2 separate regions of the Homo sapiens genome follow, and region 2 is linked to region 1. A link means that fine-mapping ties the variant in region 1 to the expression of a gene that starts in the linked region. Tissue or cell type: whole blood. Region 1 holds a variant in brackets; the other region holds the start of a gene. All regions are shown on one strand. Distances are from middle to middle.

Evidence for each region. PIP is the estimated chance that this variant, and not a neighbour inherited with it, causes the effect.
Region 2: it holds the start of NRBF2, and the variant in region 1 is fine-mapped to the expression of NRBF2 in whole blood (INTERVAL, PIP above 0.99).

Annotation. Positions count from the first base shown.
Region 1 is chr10:63,319,167-63,327,441 of GRCh38, reverse strand. All of the region lies in intron 2 of JMJD1C (jumonji domain containing 1C), which reads left to right. Among named protein-coding and RNA genes, the nearest start is that of MIR1296, 50 kb to the left of the region's middle. The variant AG/G (reference allele first, on the strand shown) is at 3,402.
Region 2 is chr10:63,129,060-63,137,225 of GRCh38, reverse strand. NRBF2 (nuclear receptor binding factor 2) reads right to left here and starts at 3,898. Exons shown (of 4, transcript NM_030759.5): 1 at 3,726-3,898. The coding sequence starts at 3,755. RefSeq lists silencers at 3,352-3,621, 3,832-4,081.

The DNA of each region.
Region 1 (8,275 bases):
TGGGGGAAATATACATATAATGGCAATGAAGTAACTTTCTCTATTTGTTTCACCCTTTTAGAAATTGAATTTCAGCAGATAAAACCACAGTTGTGTAGGCTTATTTACATTGATGAAGCAAAGTATTGGAATGAAGGTGAAGCATGTTTACATAGAAACGTATTTTTAAGCCCCAGATATTATTATTATTGTGTTCTCATAACACTTGCCCCTTTTCAGATTGTAGGCTGTCCTGTTTTTTGTTTTAGTTTTTTTGAGGCGAGGTCTCAGTCTGTGGCTCACGCTGGAGTACAGTGGTGCATTCACAGCTCACTGTAGCATCAGCCTCCTGGGCTCAAGCGATTCTCCTACCTCAGCCTCCTCGGTAGCTGGGACTACAGGTGGATGCCACCACACCGGGCTAATTTTTGTATTTTTTGTAGAGATGGGGTCTCACTGTGTTGCCTAGGCTAATCTCAATCTCCTGGACTCAAGCAATCTTCCTGTCTCGGTCTCCCAAACTGCTGGGATTACAGGCATGAGCCACCATGCCCAGCCCCTGGTTTTGTTTGTTTTTTGTTTTGAGACAGAGTTTCACTCTTGTTGCCCAGGCTGGAGTGCAATGGCACGATCTCGGCTCACTGCAACCTCTGCTTCCTGGGTTCAAGCAATTCTCCTGCCTCAGCATCCCGATTAGCTGAGATTATAGGCACCCACCACCACGCTAGGCTGATTTTGTATTTTTAGTAGAGACCAGGTTTCGCCATGTTGGTCAGGCTGGTCTCGAACTCCTGACCTCAGGTAATCTGCCTGCCTCGGCCTCCCAAAGTGCTGGGATTACACGCGTGAGCCACTGTGCCTGGCCCAGCTCCTGGTATTTTAAGTAATGTGTCAGTGTCCAATGTCTGTCCACCTCTCCGCCTCCACCAGTCTGATGTGGACCTTCAGTGTTTCATGTTAGGCTTTATAGGCAGTATCTTATAACATTACTGATTTCTTGCCATTGTAATAAATTGTTACCATATTTTATTATCTTTATTTATTTATTTATTTATTTATTTATTTATTTATTTATTTATTTTTGAGATGGAATTGCGCTCTGTCTCCCAGCTGGAGTACAGTGTATTTTGAGTAGAGACAGGGTTTCACCATGTTGGTCGGGCTGGTCTTGAACTCTTGACCTCAAATGATCCGCCTGTCTCGGCCTTCCAAAGTGCTGGGATTACAGGCGTGAGCCACCGCGTCTGGCCATTTTATCATCTTTAAACACGGCTTTCACTGTGTTATTACACTTCTCAGAAATTGTTACGCTTCCCCGTCAATTACAAATGTCATTTCTTATTTGTCACCTATTCATGTTGCTCATTGTTCCTCTATGTGGATACTTCATTACGTGAAAGATGTTCTTAGTTGTACTAAAATATATTATGCTCACATATGCATCTTTGTCTTCATTATATTGCTGTTGTCATTTAAAATAATTTTTTATAATTCAAAAACAACTGTGCTATGATGGATTTAGCAGTTAATATGTAAATGGAATAAATATAAGTATGTTGATCTACATAGAATATATGCATTAAGACATTGGAGGGATATGGAAACAAGTATATGATCCCTAAAAAGTTGGAAATAAGGTAGTTCACTGAGATTTATAGTTTATTCTAAGAAGGATTATGTTTAACTGTGTCCAGAATAAATGAAATATTTTTGGGTAAATTAACTGTTTATCAGTTATATTATAAGTTAACTGGATGTCAAGTACATACTTAAGGAATTTGAGAGACGGCACCAAAATGTAATTGAATTTAGTAATTAGATATCTAATCAGTTGTATTTACTCCTTTTTTGAGTTTAGAAGGAAAGAAGAAAGTTCTTTTTAGGCTCTAGATACAGAAAAGAGAGGTCCAAAGAGCCAGAAATTGACATTGCTTATTTAAACACTGTCGGAGGAATTAGCTGGGTGGGTGGTGTGTGCCTGTGGTCTCAGCTACTCCAGAGGGTGAACTGGATAAAAATTGATTGAGCGCGGAGATTGAGGCTGCAGTGAGCTGTGATCTCCTCACAGCACTCCATCCTGGGTGACAGAGCCAAACTCTTGTCTCAAAACAAAACAAAACAAAAAACCAAAACACTGAGGTAGAAGAAACCCTATTCTAGTATTCTTGGGCTTATTATTCCCCTGTTTTACGTCATTTGTGTTTATCAAGTAATATTTTGATTTAGCTTTCCTAAGGAAAAGTTTGTATTATTTGTTAATCCCCATGCTTTCTACACTAATTAACAGCTAATAATTATCATTTTAAAGTAATAAATTTGCATTCTGGTTTATATATCAGTAGCTATGAGCTTGATTACTAAGTTTGTCCCTAATAGGACATCTAGTCTCAGTATGCTTACAAAATCAGATATCTGAGTTTGTAATATTAAGAATTAGACTATATATATCTTTGTCATTTTATGAGAATAAAGGCCACCTATGATGGCTTTAGGTAGATAGCCAGCTGACAGTAAAAATGTATGTTTGGTTTGTATGAAGCAAGCTAAGGATTTCATGACTCCAGCAATTTACAATTTAACTCAAAATCTAGCTGAAAGCCTAGTTCAAGTTCTGTCTTTTCTATTAAATGTTTTCTGATTAGACTTACATGCAGTGACTACCCAGTATAAACCACCACCCTGGAACCTCTTTTCTTCCCGAAAATGCTTATTTTTCTCTAAATCACTTATCACCATCTGACATACACGTTTACTTGTTTATTGCCATTTCTACACTCACACAGGATTATGAGCTCTATAGGTAGGAGTTTTGTTAACACACTGCTTTGACTTTGTGGTTACCAGTGCTTGTCACATATCAAGTTCTTAAGAAGCATTCATTGAATGAAGGAATCTGTTTAATTCTGAATCTTTCTTTCCTCTAGGCTTCTTTGTTTATAAGTTGTAGTCAATATAGAATAATACAGGGTTTGTATTGTTTGATGTGTATAAATCTGATCTCCGTCTGCAGGAACTTTCTTGGAGCAAGGGCCTAACTTTGTACTATTATCTCCTCCACAGAATCTTAGTTGGCATTTGTGTTTGATCTCTTGATTTAGATAGACACGAGTTTGATTTTTGGTTTAGCTGTTTACTTACTTTTGTGACAGTAGGTAACTTTTCTGAACCTTGGTTTCTCTGTTTTAAGGATATACGAGATAGTGTTGGTTGAGGACTGTGATGGTTCATTTTATGTTGTAAGCATGACTGGGCCACAGGATACCCAGATCCTGGTAAGATATTATTTCTGACTGTGTCTGTGAGGGTGTTTCCGAAGAGATTAGCATTTGAGCTAGTAGACTGAGTAGGGAAGGACCACCCTTATCCATTTGGGCAGATATTGTCCATCCTTTGGGGGCCCACATAGAAAAAAAAAAAAAAAA[AG/G]GCAGACGAAGGATGAATTGGCTCTTTCTGAGCTGGAACATCCTTGTCTCCTGCTTTCAGATGTGGGTGCTCCTGGTTCTTCATTTTTCAGACTTGAACCAAGACACACCACTGGCTTTCCTGTTTCTCCAGCTTGTGGGCTGCAGATCATGGGATTTTGGCTTTCATAATCATATGAGATAATGAGCCTATATATATATATGTATACACACACACATATGCAAACACACAGAGAAACACACACAAATATGCTCACACTCTATTGGTCCTGTTTTTGTGGAGAACTCTAATACAAAGACATTTGAAGATTGAGAGAATGCACAAGATGGCCCCCGCAGGCCATTGTACTAGCCATCTCATTTTATATCACATCTAAGTATGCCTTGAATTTTTTTAGTTTTATGTACCTGGCCTTATTGTGCTCTTATCAGTATGACTTCTGGTTTTTGAATGGATAACATTGTTTTATAACTTGTGCTTCAGAAAATACCAGTGCTGTTTCTTTCCCCCCTTTCTTTTTTTGAAACAGTCTTGCTCTGTCACCCAGGGTGGAGTACAGTGGCGCGATCTTGGCTCACTGCAACCTCAGCCTCCTGGGTTCAAGTGATTCTTCTGCCTCACCCTCCCGAGTTGCTGGGATTCCAGGTGCGTGCCACCAAGCCTAGTTTTTGTATTTTTAGTAGAGGTGGGATTTCACCATGTTGGCCAGGATGGACTCAAACTCCTGACCTCAAGTGATCTGTCTGCCTTGGCCTCCCAGAAGTGTTAGGATTACAAGTGTGAGCCACTGTACCCGGCACCACTGTTGTTTCTAGGCTTAATTAATTTGTTGTGGCCAACAGGCTTTTCCTTGTGTTTCAGCTTTAGCACTACCTGTCCATCATAGCTGTCATTACAGCTTTGTTGACTTTACTGTCTCGCATACTCTTACCCAGTGCTGCTTTGGTCTTGCCCAAGGCGGCAGTTCTTTCCTTTTCTCTCTTCTCTACTTTTTGTTCAACATTATCTAATTTTCATATATAGATCTATGTATGTATATGTTAAATTTTTATATATATTAAATACTTTTCCCAGCTCTGCCTCTGTATTTATGACTAGATACGTAAACAATTGTTAATATACATCAATATATATTAATTACATTAATATTAACATTTGATATAGATTCTGTTCTTTCCTCAACTGTGCCTTGACAAACTTAGGAAAAAAAAAAAAGTTTTTTTTTTTTTTTTTTTTTGAGATGGAATCTCACTCTGTTGCCCAGGCTGGAGTCCAGTGGTGCGATCTTGGCTCACTGCAACCTCTGCCTTCCAGGTTCAAGCAGTTCTCCTGCCTCAGCCTCCCTAGTAGCTGGGACTACAGGAGCGCGCCACTAATTTTTGTATTTTTAGTAGAGACGGGGTTTCACCATGTTGGTCAGGCTGGTCTTGAACTCCAGACCTTGTGATTCTCCCTCTTCGGCCTCCCAAAGTGCTGGGAGTACAGGTGTGAGCCACCGTGCCTGGCCAGAAAATTTTTTAACAATTCAAATAAGTGTAAAAAGTTAAACCCTATTCTATCTTAATTTCTTGCATTTTGTATTTTACAATTTAGCAGCTTTAAAATCATCGTACTGAGTCCCTTCCACCTAAGTCACTTTCCATCTCTTGCGCTCATAATATACTGCAGGTTGGCATATACCTTTTAACTAAGAGTTTAGAGGGGGATTTTGTCTTTGTAGAAATCTGAATTTTCCAGAGGAAAAAAATTCTGAAAATTTAGAGTCCTTAGGTGAGATCCTCAGTAAACTGACATCCACTCATTTTAATAATATTCTTTTCTCTTTTATGTAAATTGATAACCAAGGCATGTGCAACATTTGAAAAGAGCTTTCCCAACATGAGAGAGAATAAACATGTAGGAAAAAAAGAATAGCCAGGAAAATACAAGGAACTGTTTTGAAAGCTTTGGGGGAAAATCCTCTTAATATACTCAGATGAGAAGATATTTCATCATTACAATGAATGAACTGGTTTAGATTCCTTAAAAGACATTCAAGAAGTGTGACTTTTGGCTTCCTCACCCAAGGTCAGCTTCAGCAGTTAGAAGGGAAAACTAAATGTTCTGAGCAAATGGTGAGAAATCCCCTAGGTTGGTGGAAGAAAGGCTGTTTTGAACTGGTGTGTGGAATAGAGAAGCTTTGTCCCAGGTCAAGAGAGAGGGCATCCTCTTGGCTATCAGAAGAAAAAATAGGAAAGGAACTATTGAAGCTCTTCACGCCTTTGAAGCAAAGGTGCCTAACTCGCGTACACTTGTAAAGTATCAGACCTTTGATATTTTGAGGAGTCAATTCAGGATAGTGCAGAGGCCCTTTCCTTCTGAGTGGATTTAAAAAATGAACTTTTGCTTCCCTACCTCTTACCCAGACAGTTCTCAGTGCTAATACGCTATAGTTGGTAAGAGATGCAGGAAAAACCAAACCAAATTGTTTTTTCCACTGTCGACTCAACACAACACTTCTGACACCAGATGTGTTGGGGTATTTTCTTACACACCTAGCAGATCTCCAGCAGACATGAGCTGGATATCCTCCAACTGAATTATTTTTTCACGCTGTCTACCTACAGCTAGCGTCAGATCCCACTGATTGAGGACTCAATCTCACAAGACTGCCTCCCACTTCAGATGACAATCGCAAGTAGTAGGTTGTCACCTATACTTCTGACTGAGCAGCTATAAAATTCACTGATCAGCTATAGACCAGCTCCTTCTCATGTTCAATTAGTTTGCTAGAGCAATTCACAAAGGTCAGAGAAACACTTTACTTATTATGTTTACCGATTTATTACAAAGAATATTTTAAAGGATACAAATGAATAGCCAGATGAAGATACATGGGATGGGATCTGGAAGGGTCCAGAGAACAGGAACTTTCATCCCTGTGGAGTTTGTGTGTGCCACCCACCTGGCACGTGGATGTGTTCTTGTACACCAGTCTGGAACCTCATTCAAACTCTATTTTTAGGGGGTTTTATGGAGACTTCATTACATAGGCATCATTGATTATATAATTGGCCATTGTTGATCAACTCAATTCAGCCCCTCTCCTCTCCCTGGAGGTCTGGGGTGGGGCTATGAACTTTCCAACTCTCTAAACACATGGTTGGTTCCCTTGGTAACAAGCACCATCCTGGGGCTATCTAGAAGCCCACCAAGATTGCCTCATTAGAACAAAAGAGTCTTCTGTCACCTAGGAAATTCCTAGGGATTTAGGAGCTCGGTGTCAGGAACCAGGAGTCAAAGGACAAATATTAGAACAAAAGATTCTCCTAGTGCCTGTATCTACAAGGATTTTAGAAGCTGTATGTCAGGAAATGGAGACAAAAAACAAATATATATTTCATGTTATCACAATAGTCGAAGAAGAGTCTCCATTTAGATGCTTTAACATGTGAAAAAATAGTGAAGCTACTTTCCCAAGGAATTGTTTTGAGAAAAGATGAGAGATTGTAGTTTTCTGCTGCCTGGAATATTCCACCTTAGGTATTTTCCACCTGTATGTCTTGAGCTCAATGGGGCTGACAGTGATTGTGGGCTGACATCGTCTATATACATTGCTTAAATGTATTTTCCTAGAAGAAAATGAGCACACAGACCAAATAAAACATTCAAAGGAAAGAAAAATAATATACTGGATTACAGATGCCATTAGTAGTAGAAATACTAGATTAGACAAATGATGAATATAAAATTATCCTAATAAATGTATTAAAAATATTAGAGGAAGATAATATGAAATAAAATCTAAAAGAAAAAATTACTCAATATCAAAAACATAATACAAAATGTAAGATATGCTGGGCATGGTGGTTCACTCCTGTAATCCCAGCACTTTGGAAAGCTGAGGTAGGCGAATCACTTGAAGCCAGGAGTTCAAGACCAGCCTGGCCAACATGGTGAAACACCATCTCTACTAAAAATATAACAATTAGTTGAGTCAGGCATGGTGGCTAATGCCTGTAATCCAAGCGCTTTGGGAGGCTGAGGCGGGTGGATCACCTGAGGTCAGGAGTTTGAAACCAGCCTGGCCAACATGGTGAAACCCTGTCTCTACTAAAACTACAAAAAAATTAGCTGGGTGTGGTGGCATGTGCCTGTAATCCCAGCTACCCAGGAGGCTGAGGCAGGAGAATTGCTTGAACCTGGAGGTGGAGGTTGCAGTGAGCCAAGATAGCACCACTGCATTCCAGCCTGGGCAACAGAGCGAGACTCTGTCGTGGAGAAAACAAGCAAACAAACAAAAAGATGAATAACAGAATTGATCTATTTGAAGAACAAAATTGTTAATTGGAAGATTAAAGAGAATATTTCACGGGGATAAAAGGACAAGGAAATAGCAAATATAAAAGAAAAATTGACAGCTATCAAATACAGAAATAAAGGTATTGACATCCAGAAGATAGGAATCTAAGAAGGGAGATAATTTTTTTTAAGTGGAGAATAAATACTTAAAGGGATAAAAGGGATAGTTTTCTAGAATTAAAGTGAGAGAGAAAAGAGAGAGGTGAGAAATTTCAGATTAAAAGGAGTTCAGAGTCAAGAGAGAAGAAAGAAACACAACATACGTTAAAGTTAAAATATAAGACTGCCAGAGATAAAGAAAATGCTAAAGACTTGCAGAGATGAGGGAAAAAAAAAAGTCACAAACAAATGAAGAAGAATTAGATTGGCATCACACTTTTTCAGCAGTAACTCTTGAATGTAAGCAGAAAATGTATTAGCTTTTTTTTTTTTTTTTTTTTTTTAGATGGAGTCTCGCTCTGTCGCCCAGGCTGGAGTGCAGTGGCGCAGTCTCAGCACACTGCAAGCTCCGCCTCCGGGGTTCACGCCATTC
Region 2 (8,166 bases), 190 kb after region 1:
AGACAGGAAGATTGCTTGAGGCCAGGAGTTCAAGACCAGCTTGGGCAACACAGCAAGACCCCATCTCCACAAAAAGTTTTTGAAAAAATTAGCTGGGCATGGTGGTGCAAACCTGTAGTCCCAGCTATTGTGGAGGGCTCAGGCAGGAGGATCCCTTGAGTGTGGGCAACAGAGTAAGACCCTGTCTCTTAAAGAAAAATTGACCAAAAAACCCTAATGAAACAAAGTTATTCAGAGTGCAAAGACTAGCTATTTTTTTCTTCAGTGGAAGTACAATTTTTCTTTTGACAAACTTCAATAACCAGATAATTAGAATCCATTACCTCTGTGGTACATATTAAAATGAATATTTCAAACTAGTCTCTTCCAGATCTTAAAAATTCACTGTGAGGAATTTCTAAGGCCCTTACTGCCAAACCTAACATAAAAGAATCAATACTGGAGCAGAGGTAATAAATGCTAACACAGAATCTACAGTTCAATATAGATGAGAACCATACTGAAATGAACATGATGAGTACAATATGGCAGCATTGCTAGAAAGAGGTCTTGATATCAAAATAACTCGTGATTCATAATGTATTTAAGTTACTGACCTAAGTAATTACCTAATTCTCTCAGCTTAGGCTTATTTATCTGTAAAACTGGAAAACACACCTTACTAAGTTCCGAGGATGCTCTGAGGACACATGATTACAAATCCATGTACTGTGATAAGTCCTTATACAATGAATTTGGACTACACTACGACGTCATTTGACAAAGCTTATTGCATTAGTAACTCTCTGAGTATAGAAAAAGAAAAAGCTTGTATAATACTAGTGGAATTTTCAAAGACATTCAAATTATAGCATTGAGAACTCTCATCTTGAGTCAACTAGATACTAAGTTAGGTGTTCACTGACATAAAAGAATGTCAGAATTTTCATAGCCGGGCAGGGTGGTGCATGCCTGTAATCCCAGCTACTCAGGAGGCTGAGGCAGAGAACTGCTTGAACCCGGGAGGTGGAGGCTGCAGTGAGCCCAGATCGCACCACTGCACTCTAGCCTGGGTGACAAAGCGAGACTCCGTCTCAAAAAAGAAAAAAAAAAAAAAAAAAAGTCTGAATTTTCAAAAACCTCATCTTATAAAACTGTGAGTGACAATTCTGAGTGCCAGAGGCCTGTAATTGGTACTCATTCAAGTAACCGTCAACGTCTGTTCTACTGTTACCTTCCAATAAACAACTATGCTGGAAATTAGATCTTTCAAGACTCAAATGGTTTAAGAATTCAAGGTGTCCGCCGGGCACGCTGGCTCACGCCTGTAATCCCAGCACTTTGGGAGGCCAGGCGGGGGGATCACGAGGTCAGGAGATCGAGACCATCCTGGCCAACATGGTGAAACCCCGTCTCTACTAAAAATACAAAAATTAGCTGGGCGTGGCGGCGCGTGCCTGAAATCCCAGCTACTCAGAAGGCTGAGGCAGAAGAATCGCTTAAACCAGGGAGTCGGAGGTTGCAGTGAGCTGAGATCGCGCCACTGCACTCTAGTCTGGTGACAGAGAGAGACTCCATCTCAAAAAAAAAAAAAAAAAAGAATTCAAGATGCCAAATTTCTGATACTTGCCTACATAAATTTTATGGCTGAAATACGGAGTTACGCTAGCCTGCTTAAAAAGACTCTGTCGAAACTCGCTCCGTTTTATGGAGGAGAATTTAAATGGTATTGCCACCATTTAACTAATTTTTCCTGAACTGGTAGTGATTCTGCAGTTCTATCTGCAACTGTCACCCAGTTCTAGTCTCCTTTTAAAACATCACACATTCGTGGGGCAGTTGGCGGGGGTTATTCTGCAGCCAAATAATGTGAAGCTAACTAGAACTGAACCAATGCTCATTTGGCAAGGACACCTGAACTCTGAAGCACTTCGTAAACAGCTGATTATTTCTAGTAATACTCCTGTGAAGTTTCAGTATTGAGCCATCCACTGTATTTCATTGCCAACTATATGTCGCCTTAAAAACAAGAAAAGTGCAAGACAGTTCCCTGGTTATTTGAGTCAGAGTCTCGCTCTGTCGCCCAGGTTGGAGTGCAGTGGCACAATCTCGGCCCACTGCAACCTCCACCTCCTGGGCTCAAGCGATCCTGCCACCTCAGCCTCCCGAGTAGCTGGGACCACAGGCGGGCGCCACCACGCCAGGCTATTTTTGTATTTTTTGTAGAGACCGGGTTTCGCCATGTTGCCCAGGCTGGTCTCGAACTTCTAAGCTCAAGTGATTCGCCCGCCTCGGCCTCCCAAAGTGCTGGGATTACAGGCGTGAGCCCCGGCGCCTGGCCAGTTCCCTGGTTAAAAAAAACTCGCAAATGTAGTCCAATTCGTCTTAAGTGTAAATACCTACCACCTGGGGCAAGACCCAACTTAAAAGGGAGGGGCGCCTCACAACAGTTAACCTGGCACCAGTGATTTGGTCCGAGAATCTTAGGCTTTTAAAGCTCAAGTCCAAACCTTTATTCTACAAATAGATTTTAAATTAAGGGCTTATGGTCTGGTTATAATCGCTAACTCTTACACTGTACTATGTACTTAGTACAGTTCTAAGTGCTTTACACCTATTTACTCCTTTAATCCTCCCAAAAAACCTGAAGCCGAGTGAAGCCAAGTAGTTTGCCCAAGGTAACACAGATATCAAGTGACGAGGTTAGAATTCAAATCCAAGCAGCATAGCTTCAAAACCTAGAGTCTTAAACCACCTGACTCTACTGCTCTTCTAGGACTCAGAGTTCTAATGTGAGAAAAGAATCCTCTATAGAGCTTTCTTTCAATTCCACCATCGCAAATGAATTGCAAACCTGTGACTCAAAAGTTCTTCCTGTGTGCAACCTTAAGTAATCTGACTTTTACATCCAAAATGGGTAACCTCTCTGGAAAACTAAAAGATGCAATGGCCAGTCTGAAAAGAACTCATGCTTCCCGTTGTTAGTGGGGTTCTGTTGTGTTGTTTTTTAATTGCAACACCTGAAACGCCTTAAAACACAAGTAAACAGGCTATCAGCCATTTTCCTGAGAACAGCAAACACCTATTACACTTTCATGATGCCTAAATTGATGAATCTGAGCTAAATACAGGAACGGCTGTCTTTTTCCCAGCTGTCTCTAATATATTTGGAAGACGGTAGACTCAGTTTATGCATGTGAATGTATGTGAGAAATGAGGGGGAAGTGGAGGGTGAGGAGGGGGAAGTGGAGGGTGAGGAGGGGGAAGTGAAGGGTGAGGAGGGGGAAGTGGAGGGTGAGGAGGCTATTCACTCCTCCACCTCTCCAAAGCGGGGCGACTCAGACTCAGACCCTGCTGCTAGAACTTAAAACCAGTATCACACCATTTCTGCCTTGGCCGGCTTCAGTGCCTCTCCAGGCTGTAGGGAGGTGGCTACGTGGCGCTAAGAGGACTTCCCCCAGCCAGAGAGGAGGTGGCAGCCCCAGGTGGTGGCATCCCCTCGCCCGGGGCCCCGCGACAGGGGGCGCCAGGACTTCCCGGGGATCCCCCAGGAGGGCAAAGTCTGAAGTGGCTAGCCTGGAGCCGCAGTTGGGCCAGGGCCTGCCTAGCAGCCCCTCACAGCCTCTGCGACCACTCCTGCCAAACCAACCTCCCAGCCTAAAGGGTTAGCCGACGCGCCGGGGACGGGGCCGGGCTCCTGAGGCAAAGGCACCCAAGACGAACGCTATATTCTGTGGGACACTCACCAGGTTGAGGGGTCCTTCCATTACTTCCATAGACCCCGGGGTAAGCGGCGGCCTTAGGAAGGGGAGTAGTGGCGCCGGGGAACATGGAGGGGACTGCAAGGGAGCTCGACGCAGCCGCGGAGACTGCGGCCCCTCTCTGCGCCCCAAGAGCCAGCGATAGGCGCTGAAGGAGCAACAACCTCACCACTTCCTCCTCCGGCGCCGCGCCGCGGGCCCGCCCCCTGCGCCACCGCCGAGGCCACGCACGGCGCCATGACGTCACACGCGCAAAAGGCTGGTTCAAGGTGGGAATGAGGACAGGCAGTGGGTGGGGCCCAGGGAAGGCGGGGCACCAGCTGATGTACGCTTGCGAGCGGTCAATCTTTCCTCTCGCGAGAAGCGTTAGTTTAGGTTCTTAAAGTCTACACTGAAGTCACGTGAGGAGGTACAGCCTTGCTGTTGAAGACTTGAAATGGCTGTCTTCTGCAATTAGCTTCTCACGTTTCCTTTTAGACTGACTTTTCCTTAAATCTGCTAATCGTTACACCGTTACTTGTGGTCCTGTCCACACCTTTATCATTGTACATGATTCATTTTTTCAAAAGGCCGATTTGAGCAATTCTAGACCATGCACTGGACTAACCCCCCTAGAGGTCAGCACACTCGAATGATTTAGGGCTCTGCCCTCAAGTTGCTCACAAACTGATAGGGAAACAATTTTGGTCTAGCCAAATATAATACTGCATTCATTTAACAATTATGTGCCAAACAAAAGCTAGGTTCGTTCTGTCATGGAATTCACTGACAAATAGTTGTGATTTATGCTGGAAAGGGAACACATAGGGAGCTGTGATAGAGTAACCAAGGTGGAGTTGGGTGGTAAAGGAAAGCCTTTCATGGGGGGCGTGATTTTTTTTGAGAAAGTGTCTTGCTGACGCAATCTCCACTCACTGCAACCTCCCTCTGCCCGCCCCCTGCCCCAGGCGATCCTCACACCTCAGTCTCTTAAGTAGCTAGGAACTACAAGTGCTCAGGCCAGGTTAATTTTTGTATTTTTTGTAGAGATGGGGTTTCGCCATGTTGCCTATGCTGATCTTGAACTGCTGAGCTCAAGTGAGCTCAATGATCCGCCCTCCTGGACCTCACAAACTGATGGGATTATAGGCATGAGCTACCGCACCTGGCTAAGGGCGTAATCTTTAAGATTAAACCTTAAAATGCCAGTTAAACAAAGACCCTTCTCGACAAAGGAAATGTCTTATGCCTCAACTCTAAAGGCGGGGAGGTCGGGTGGCGGGAGCTGCAGCATTTCAGAGAGATGCAAAAGAAGATACCAGAGAGATAGGAAACTTCCAAAACATAGGTGTCCTTGCAGTGCACAATGAAACATTTGAATTTTACTCAAAGTGCATTGGGAAATAAGTAAAGGATATTAAGCTAGAGAATAATCTGCTTTAATTTACAGTTTTGAAAAGATTAATTTCCCTGTAATGTGAAGAATAGATTGTGGAAGGCCTAAGGAAAAAGAACCAAGACAAGCTAGTTGATTGACTAATTATGGGCGCTCAGACTGGAATGGAAGTAGGGAAGATTGGGTCATGCATCCACTCATTACATAGTTATCATGTTTCTACCATGTGCCGGAAACCTTGGAAGAGAAGTAGATATATTCAAGATATATTTTTGGGCATCAGGTTGAGAGGAGTTAGTGATGGAATGGCAGTAAAGCATACAGAAAATGGAAGAATCAAATCTCGTATTTAAACAACCAAGTGGCCTAGCACACTGGCTCACCCCTGTAATCCCAGCTCTTTGGGAGGTCAAGGAGAGCAGATCACTTGAGGCCAGGAGTTTGAGACTGGTCTGGCCAACGTGGTGAAACTTCATCTCTACTAAAAGCACTAAAACGTAGCCAAGTGTGGTGGCGCGTGCCTGTAATCCCAGCTACTGGGGAGACTGAGGCAGGAGAATTGCTTGAACCTGGAAGGCAGAGGTTGCAGTGAGCTGAGACCAATCACACCACTGCATTCCAGCCTGGGTGACACAGAGAGACTCTGTCTCTAAAAATAAAAAAATAAAAAAGTAAACAACCAAGTGGACAAGATAGTGAGAGACAGGACTAGCTGGATTTCCTAGGCCAACTAAGAATTCCTAAACCTAGCTGGGGAAGGTGACCACACCCACATTTAAACACAGGGCTTGTAACTCAGTTCACACCCGACTAATCAGGTAGTAAAGAGGGCTCACTAAAATACAAATTAGGCTAGAAGCAGAAGGTAAAGAAATAGTCAAATCATATATCGCCTGAGAGCACAGGGGGAGGGACAATGATCAGGATATAAACCCAGGCATTCGAGCAGGGAGTGGCAACCCCCTTTGGGTCCCCTCCCATTGTATGGGAGCTCTGTTTTCACTCTATTAAATCTTGCAACTGCACACTCTTCTGGTCCATGTTTGTTACAGCTTGAGCTGAGCTTTCACTCACCGTCCACCACCGCTGTTTGCTGCCATCACAGACCCGCCGCTGACTTCCACCCCTCTGGATCCATCAGGGTGTCCACTGTGCTCCTGATCCAGCGAGGCGCCCATTGCTGCTCCCAATCGGGCTAGAGGCTCGCCATTGTTCCTGCAAGGCTAAGTGCCCAGGGTTTGTCCTAATCGAGCTGAACACTAGTTGCTGGGTTCCACGGTTCTCTTCTGTGACCCACGGCTTCTAATAGAGCTATAACACTCACTGCATGGCCCAAGGTTCCATTCCTTGGAATCCGTGAGGCCAAGAACCCCAGGTCAGAGAACAAAAGGCTTGCCGCCATCTTGGAAGTGGCCTGCCACCATCTTGGGAGCTCTAAGAACAAAGACCCCCTGGTAACAATAGGAAGGAGCTAATTTGTATGGAAAATGAAAAGTTCTATCTTGGGCACTGTATTAATTTCCTATGACTGCTGTAAGAAGTTACTACCCATTTAGTGGATTAAAACAACAGAAATTTGGAGGCTAGCAGTTCTGGAGGCTAGAAGACCAAAATAATTTTTTTTTTTTTTTGAGACGGAGTCTCGCTCTTTCACCCAGGCTGGAGTGCAGTGGCTCGATCTTGGCTCACTGCAGGCTCCACCCCCGGGGTTCACGCCATTCTCCTGCCTCAGCCTCCCACATAGCTGGGACTACAGGCGCCTGCCACCTCGCCTGGCTAATTTTTTGTATTTTTAGTAGAGACGGGGTTTCACCGTGTTAGCCAGGATGGTCTCGATCTCCTGACCTCGTGAATCACCCTCCTCGGCCTCCCAAAGTGCTGTGATTACAGGCGTGAGCCACCATGCCCGGCCAAGACCAAAATAATTTCATAGCGCCAAAACAAAGGTATACAGCAAGGCCTTGCCCCCTTCTTTTCCAGCCTCTGGAGCTACATTCTTTGCATTCCTTTGACTCACAGCCCCTTCTTCCATCTTCAAAGCCAGCAGCACTGCATCTTCAAAGCTCTTGCTGCTTTTGTCATGTCATTTCCTCTTAAAATCCTTCTGCCTCCCTCTAGTAAGGACCCTGTGAATACATTTGGTCCACAAAATAGTTAAAGATAGTCTTCCTATCTCAAGGTTAACTTAATCATACCTACAAAGTCCCTTTGCCATATGAGGTAACATTCTCAGCTTCCACAGATTAGGACCTGGGTATCTTTCGGACCATTATTGAGACTACCAGAGGCATTGTATCTAAAGCAAATCAATGACATACTCAAAATAATCCCAGAAGGGTTTAATAAACGGACTGTTTTACAAAGGTGTGGCCAGAGTTTAGGTATTTACATGAGAAAAGCAATAACTCCTAGGCTATAAAGAAAGAAATAGAAGGGGCTGGGTACAGTGTCTCACACCTGTAATCTCAGCACTTTTGGGAGGTGGAGGCAGAGGTGGGCGGATCACTTGAGGCCAGGAGTTCAAGCCCAGCCTGGCCAACATGGCGAAACCTCATCTCTATCCAAAATACAAAAATTAGCCAGGCATGGTGGCACATGCCTATAGTCCCAGCTACTCTGGAGGTTGAGGCACGACAATAACTTGAACCTGGGAGGCAGAGGTTGCAGTGAGCTGAGGCCGCACCACTGCACTCCATCCTGGGAGATAGAGCAAGACTCTGTCTCAAAAAAAAAAAAAAAAAAAAAAAAAAGAAAGAGAAATGAATAAGAGGGAAATCTGAAATGAGGAGAAAAATGTAGAATATAGTTTGAAGAAGCACTGACCTTCAATCAAGGACACTATCCTGAGGTGACCTTGCAGGGAGGATCCAGGGAAATCACCTTATTTCCTCTTCCCCTGACTTCCATTGTCCAAACCCAATCAAAAGCCAGAAGGCAAGGGAGCCCATTGATGTAATTCATAAAAATCAGCCTCCAAGGGCAGGGAGCAGGGTAGTAAGAAGTAGAGACCGGATCTGGAAAGAGTAATACAAAATATCTGGCACATACAAA